Linked DNA regions of Homo sapiens. The protein of the gene in region 1 purifies or fractionates together with the protein of each later gene. This does not show direct contact. Each region holds a gene or a part of one and is shown on either strand. Other genes may lie near its edges.

The links.
Region 2: the proteins of GCSAML (region 1) and SASS6 purify together in Homo sapiens (affinity purification with mass spectrometry; one large-scale study listed by BioGRID and IntAct). This does not show direct contact.

What each region holds. Positions count from the first base shown.
Region 1 is NC_000001.11:247,547,648-247,551,962, reverse strand, and holds the start of GCSAML (germinal center-associated signaling and motility-like protein), read right to left. Parts: upstream 2,830-4,315; 5' UTR 2,772-2,829; coding exon 2,743-2,771; intron 1-2,742.
Region 2 is NC_000001.11:100,119,257-100,123,077, forward strand, and holds part of SASS6 (spindle assembly abnormal protein 6 homolog), read right to left. Parts: intron 3,229-3,821; coding exon 3,124-3,228; intron 2,294-3,123; coding exon 2,122-2,293; intron 1,204-2,121; coding exon 1,138-1,203; intron 1-1,137.

The DNA.
Region 1 (4,315 bases):
GTAGGTCATAAGCCCCCATTCCAGAGAGTGTTCTGCCCCATACTCATAAGTAAGGAATGCTGTACAGAGAGGTCGAGAAGAATCTAAACAGACAGAACAAGACTTGCTGGGATTTTCCACTCTGTCTATTAGCATTAGGTCATATCCTTTTTGTCCAATCATATTTCCACATGGCTATCCAAAATTTGTTGAACCTAAGCATAGAAATGGACAGTTTCCTTTGCATCTTTGGGTCTTCATTCTGAGGTTCCTGTGTCACATAAAACGATGATCAATAAATTTGCCTTTTGTCCTATTAATCTGCCTTTTCTCAGCTGATTTCAGAGAACCTTCAGGGAGCAAAGGGGAAGTTTTCCTTTTGCCCCTGCATCTTCTTTGGTATATTTTAAGAGCTTATTGTCTATTTCTCTCTGTGTCATTCCTCCATACTCACTGAGCATAGACATTTCTTCCTAAAATACATGCCACATTGCATTTTTCTCCAGCTTATAAATGTTCACTGCTTACCACTTTCTACGTGCCTTTGAAGGCCCTTCATTATCAGACCCCCAGCTTCATTCTCAACTTCTTCTGCTACTGGAGTCATCTCTGAACAATATGCTCCAATTATTGACAGTAATACCATACACTTGAAACTCATACATTTTCACAGGTTGTCCCTTCAGCTTGGACCATCTTTTCCTGCTTTGTAAGTCTGCCTAACATTTACAGCACAATCCAAATGGCAATTCCTCAAGCATGTCCTTCCTTCCTGCTATCCCAAACCAGAATTCCCTTCCTTCCTTCCTTTTATTTCTACAGTGCGCTGTTTGTGCTTCTGCCTAGAACACATTAGCACCTGCCTTATCTTAAAAAGAAGCCATTGTGGTGTAATGGAAATGACGGATGACTTGACATCATAAATTACATGTAAGATTCATAATTTTATAGCAAAGGCAACCTTGACAAGTTTTAATTCTCTCTCAATTTTAATTATCTGAGCCACGTAATGTCTATTTTTTTAAAGCTGAGTCAGAGTGATTAAGTACGATGTTCTCTGAAGGGGCCTATCCATTTTTAAAATTTGCTTCCATATCCATTTTCCTTCCATGTTTAATTTTTTCTTGCGACCAAGACCATTGTCTTACCTAGGCTTTCCATAAATATTGCTTAACTTTAAAAGAAGGGAAACATTTTTTCTTTAGGGTAAATAATTGAATTTACCTCTCAGCACAATTGTGTCATTTGTCCTCCATCTACTGCCCAGACTCATGCTCATCCTGAACTTTGATGGCCCTTCTCCATCCATGAACCCTTAAGCATTTTTTTTTGTTTGTTTGTTTATTTGAGACAGAGTCTTGCTCTGTCGCCCAGGCTGGAGTGCAGTGGCGGGATCTCGGCTCACTGCAAGCTCCGCCTCCCGGGTTCACGCCATTCTCCTGCCCCAGCCTGCCGAGTAGCTGGGATTACAGGTGCCCACCACCACGCCCGGCTAATTGTTTGTATTTTTAGTAGAGACGGAGTTTCACCGTGTTAGCCAGAATGGTCTCGATCTCCTGACCTCGTGATCCACCCGCCTCGGCCTCCCAAAGTGCTGGGATTACAGACATGAGCCACCGTGCCCAGCCACCCTTAAGCTCTTTAACAAATAGCAATTTACTGAAAGACTAAATGAAGACATCAAGGGACAGCTGAACTATTTAACCTGGTGAAAGGAGACGGTATGAACCATCAGGTGTGGGGAAGCCAATCTGCTGCCTCATAAAGACAGCTTCTCTGACCTACTTTGTTTGACTGTAGGTCATAAGCCCCCATTCCAGAGAGTCCTCTGCCCCATACCCGTAAGTAAGGAACGCTGCACAGAGAGGTCAAGAAGAATCTAAACAGACAGAACAAGACTTGCTGGGATTTTCCACTCCGTCTATTAGCGTTAGGTCATACCCTTTTTGTCCAGTCATATTTCTACATGGTACCCACTGGAGCACAGGAGCGATATGATGAGAGTTTTGCCTTGGGTCTATCAATGTAGTCACGTCATATGCAAGATTGTCTGGAAGGGGACTGGGAGAGCGGACAGAGGAGTGGGATGCTGTAGAGCCCATCATTTAAGATTAAGCAAGATGTAAGAACAATAATGCCTGTTATCTGTACACATTCTATAAATTATGAAGTATTGGAAGAGTGTAAGGCTAAACATTACCAAAAAAGGTGTGACTAAAGTCAAAGGCATTCAAATGCATATCCCGCATCCATAATTTGCAAGGACCTAACTGTTCATTCTCATACCAACCCACGAAGCTGATGGATGGAAAGTTAAGCTCTACACCCACATGAAGAAAAAGAGAAGCAGGAAAATTCAAGTGACAATTGTGTAGGGTTGCCAGATGAAATACAAGATGCACTGCTAAATTTGAATTTCAGATAAACAATGAATAACTTTTTAGTAAAGTACAACCCATGTTATAATGCCCAAAATATTATATGAGGCACATTCATACTAAAAAAAAAAATGTTTTTCTGGAATTTGAATGTGACTTAGCATCCAGTATTTTTGTTTTCTACATCTGGCAACCTATCATTGTTCCAGAGTAAGGCAAGAGAAGGAGCCAACTGGGCGTCACTGTGTGCTCCTAGAGGATGCTGTCTTCAGGCTTAACCTTCTAGAAGCACAATGTACCTCACCATTACAAATGCGTTATGTCCAGCCTCCTTATCTCTGTTCTCTTTCTCCCAAGAAAGGCGGCACCAAGAGTCAAGACTCACCTGAGTTTTCGCAGGAGATAATTTCCCATCTTTTCACAGTGACTCGGTTTCTCAGCTCCTGAGTTTCACTCCACTTGGGGAAGTTCTGACCAAAGCACCAAGAGGAAAATGCATGAGGCAGGACGTTGCATCTGACCACGGGTTCGTGCTCTTGCCAACCACGAGCTGCCAGGGGCCTGCGCATGATAGAGAAGGCAGGAAGAGCTCGAAAGGGGAGGCAGAAAGGAAAATGTGAGTGTGCGTGTGTGTGCCTGCACGCACACACACACACTCATACACACACGCGTGGGCATACAGTGGGAAAAAATCAGGCTGAAACATGAAAGTGAATCTATCACTCCAGGTTCACTTTGCTTTCAAGGAAATTCTAGTATTGCAAGACGAAACAAGGTAAGGACTTCCCTATTCCTCCGAAGTGAGCATAATAATAAGATTACACAATGCAATAAGAGAGTTGCATTTTTGCTGGAATAAAAGTGATTAATCTGGATTCATGATTTCTTAGGCAAACTGCTCATTACAGAGATCTGAGATCTCAAGATTCCAAATATGTTGTCCTCTTCCAAACATACAAAGAGAAAGCCTCTTCTTGGGGAAAAGAAAAAAACAACGTTAGAAATAAAATTTCTCTTTGTGGCTCTAGCAACGATAATCAGATCAAATGTCAATAGCCTTTCCTCAGAGGTCTGATACTTTCAAAGACAAGATGGGAAAGAAAAAGGAAAAAAAAGGATGAGAATAGAAGGTTATCAAAATTATTTGGGGTAGGTTAAGAAGCCATTGTTCTGGTTGTCAGCTCAAAGACTAACATGACAATGGGGAAAATGCAGGGCCTGGAAGACCTGTTGCCAGCATCTGGTCCCCCACTTCCTCCCCTAGGCTGCCCACCAGAGCCACAAAGCACAAGCTGGTTCTAGTGATAATTTCGAGGCCACAATATCAGCGGCAGGAGATCAGCTAACAGCTGACTCTGAGCCGTGGCTGTCAGGAGACTGAAATCGCTTATTCATGATGTCTCCTGCCGAAGGATTTATACCACAGGTGGTTGATTTTCTTCAGCTTCCAACCAACACAAAATCTATTTGCTGAAATCAGAAACTATATGCTCACCTATTCCAACTCTTTTTTTCTCCCAATGAGGAAATCAGGACTGAGGAAGTTTAATTGACTGTTAACCAGCAGCAGAACTCAGGAGTCTGGAGTGCTTTATCATTATTTATAAGTTTTGTATTGTTTATTTATCGATTATAAACATGAGAAAAATATATTACAAGCAGGAATGTCACACACCCCATTTCAGATTTATGATTTATCTAATTCGTATGTGACAACCTATGTACCAAAGTGCTGCTTCCCAAACTTTCTCATGTAAGCAAATCACCCGAGGATCCTGTTAAAATGCAGATTCTGACTCTTTCAAACTGGGATCAATATTTTGCCTTTCTAACAAGTTCCCAGGTGATGCCACTCCAGCCAATCCATGGAGCGGTAAAGGCACTAAGAAGCGTGTTCCGCCATTGCTGTCCTTGACCAGAAACACCGGCATCTCTGAGAACTTATTAGAAATGCAAAC
Region 2 (3,821 bases), about 150 Mb from region 1:
ATGTTCAAAGCCTTTTCCTACACAAAATTTTTTAATTTTAGGAAATCAACATTAGAATAAGAACAATCTTAGACCCAAAACGGCCCACAGGTCAAGATTAACTATCTTTTAATTAAAGCTTTTAATTAAATCTGGCTCTTTACCACCCAATAAAGAGGGGTAAGGGGAAGCAAGTCGATTATAAGGAATAGTTCACTTACATATAAAACCCAGTAACATGGCCCTGTGGGCCACATTGTGCAGGGGTATTTTCTGCATGAGGCCATGCAGATTATCAGATACCGATATAGTTAGGATGTCTGTCCCCTCCAAGTCTCATGTTCAAATGTAATCCCCAACAGAGGAGGCAGGGCCTGTGGTAGGTGATTGGATCATGGGAATGGTTTAGTGCCATTCCCTTGGTGTTAAGCAAGTTCTCATTCAGTTAGTTCATATGAGATCTGGATGTTTAAAAGCATGTGGTACCTCCTTCCTCCCACCCTCACCATGTGACACTCCTGCTCCCCTTTGCCTTCAGCCATGACTGTAAACTTCCTCAGGTCCCCACTAGAAGCCAAGCAGATGTTGGTGCCATGCTTGTACAGCCTACAGAACAATGAACCAATTAAATCTCTTTTCTTTATAAATTACCCAGCTTCAGATAGTTCTTTAAAGCAAAGCAAGAACAAGCTAAAACAGATACTCTGGCCTTCAATTTCATGAACTAGGGCAGAAATGTTGTAGCTATGACTGAAATGATGCTAAGCCTATCAGAGGAATTAATTCTAAACATAGCAAAGAAAGGGAAAGGTTTAGAGCATAGGAACTGAAAAGCCATTTAGGCCAGAGGAATGAGGCGAACAAGTGGGGAGTGGAGAACTAATATATGACAGAAACATACATATCTTATTTAATGAAGACTCGAGGGAACATGTTATATATTGGGGATACAGAAATGTTTGTGTAAAATCAAGTATGTACAAGAGAAAGTATCAAATTAAGATAATTAAGTGGTAGTTGAAGGGTGGCAAAGAGGAATGGAAATTCAACGGAAGCATGCTTTGAAAGAAAATACATAAAAGCTTGGAACTGAGTCAAGGAAGCAATTCAGTGCCAATGTCTGGATGACTTACAAAGACAAAATGAAATTTGAATTACCTTTCGTGTAAAGTCCAGTTGCTTAGTAGCATCATCTAGTGATTGCATCAATGATAATTTTTCTTCCTATTCATAAAAATAATAAAATTACACAGTTTACAATGTAATCATCTATAGCCATGCTACTCAAAGTATAGCATCAGCATCATCCTGGAAGCCTGTTAGAAATGCAGATTCTTAGGCTCCATCTCAAATCTAAATCATTTTAACAAGATCCCCAGATAATTTAAAGTTTGACATGCACTGATCTATAGCATTTGACTAGAAAGACTCTAAAAACTCAAGCAGCATCCCTATGTTGTTTCCTTGTGCCATATAGCACTTTATAATTTTCAAGACATTTCCATATATCTTATCTCATTAAAGATGGGCTAGGGCCGGGCGCGGTGGCTCACGCCTGTAGTCCCAGCACTTTGGGAGGCCGAGGCGGGCGGATCACGAGGTCAGGAGATTGAGACCATCCTGGCTAAAACGGTGAAACCCCGTCTCTACTAAAAATACAAAAAATTAGCCGGGCGTAGTGGCGGGCGCCTGTAGTCCCAGCTAGTTGGGAGGCTGAGGCAGGAGAATGGCGTGAACCCGGGAGGCGGAGCTTGCAGTGAGCCGAGATCCCGCCACTGCACTCCAGCCTGGGCGACAGAGCGAGACTCCGTCTCAAAAAAAAAAAAAAAAAAAAAGATGGGCTAGATAGGGTAGCTATTTCCATACATGTCTACCAGTTGATGAAACCATGACAGAAGAGTTTAAGTGACCTGTCCAAAATCACACGATTGGTAAAAACCCTGAGACCTAAGCTTCTCAATTCCTGGTCCAGATCCATCCCGACTATACCTTGACTAAATAAGAAACAGTAAAATAAATTCGTTATATTTCATAAAACTTTATTTAGAAAACAAAAACTTATGGCAATGTATCTCTTCAATAATTTATCAAAGACCATTGATACTTATTTTGTTAAAAGAATAACTTAAATTTAAATCTTACCTTGCTACATTTCAAACAGCCTGCGAGAAATTTCTTTATCTCCACATCATTTCCAGGTAAAAGTTTTAGTGAGAGGTGTGTAAGATGCTTAAAAGGATTTGTCTCTACCACATTTAAAAATGCAGGTGAGTTATCCAAAATAGCTGCTGGAGAAACTAACTGTAGCAAAAACCTTTGAAAAGAAAATGTTACATTATAACACACTTAAGAGATAGTGAAAATCTCTCACTGAATCAGAAGCTTCTCTACTTAAGAAAGCTCAGGAAAGGGAGCACATTGAGGACTCCCAATGGTAAAAGATAAATTGGGCAAAAAAAAGAAAAGATTGACTGAAACACAGTGACTACATAAAAGTCCATGAGTTCATGAGAAACAAATGAGAGAAAAAGCAAAAACTAGAAACAAAAATTCACTGAGTGCCACAAAAGTAGACTACCAGCTCTTTACTCTAAAAATTGACAATTTAAATGCAAGAATTAAGCATTTATCCTTTATGAATTTTCTGAGTAATCAAATAGCCCTAATTGCTGAGGAAAAGTTCTTCTTTATAGAAGAATTATACTTAATATAGAAAAAATTATACAGAAGCATCATTTTGTTCTTCCTAATGAAATAACTGATTCAACAACAATCGTCAACTGATAAAACCAATAAATAAAAGGTTGATGGTGAACTTTACAGTAAAAGAATCAGGCGTTAGCACCATACACACATACAATCTTAGTCTTCCCTTTTTCCAATATCATTATAAAACCAAATATTTGATGCTGCTAAATATTTCGGATGACTTTAGTGCCTTTGTCAAGACATGAAAATTAAGAAATATTTCTGATTTTAATCAAGATGCCTTAAAGTCTGAGATTTAATGGAGGCCTAACCCCAGTTCTAAAAATAAACAGGGATAGTCATAATAAACGGAAAAGATTTTGCCATCAACTTGTGTTTCAAAGAAGAGTCTGTCTTGAATTAAATTTAATAATGTAGCATTCTCATGCAACTTACCTTGGAATTTCTTTGGCATGTTCTTGAGTACATTGCTGAAGGAGATCTATAAATTTTTGTGGGAAAGCTAAGAAGTCTACCAGAAGACCTTGCTGGAATTTTAAACTATACAGAAGAAAGGAAAAGAAATTTTTTAAAAATTTTAATTAACTTTGTTTTGTTTTGGTGCCTTTTTTTTTTTTTTTTTTTTTGAGATAGAGGCTCACTCCATCACCCAGGCTGGAGTGCAGTGGTGCAATCTTGGCTCACTGCAACCTCTGCCTCCCAGGTTCAAGAGATTCTCCTTCCTCAGCCTCCTGAGTAGCTGGGATTACAGGCACATGCCACCATACCTGGCTAATTTTTGTATTTTTAGTTAAGACAGGGTTTCACCATGTTGGTCAGACTAGTCTCGAACTTCTGACCTCATGATCCGCCCTCTTCGGCCGCCCAAAGTGCTGGGATTACAGGCGTGAGCCACCGTGCCTGGCCAATTACTATCTTTAATTATAATTAGCATCCTGAAGGATTCTTTTTTCAAATTTACTAACGCTTGTTATAATCAAGAACTAAGCTAAGGAACTCTGATTTTTATAGAACGTATTCAATGGGAAAAAAAATCAATAAATTCAGCAAAAGCTTCAAACTTCACAGGTGTTTTAAGCAGAATTCTAATAACCCACAAAATATTTATTTTCCAAAACACCCTAAGTAAAGAT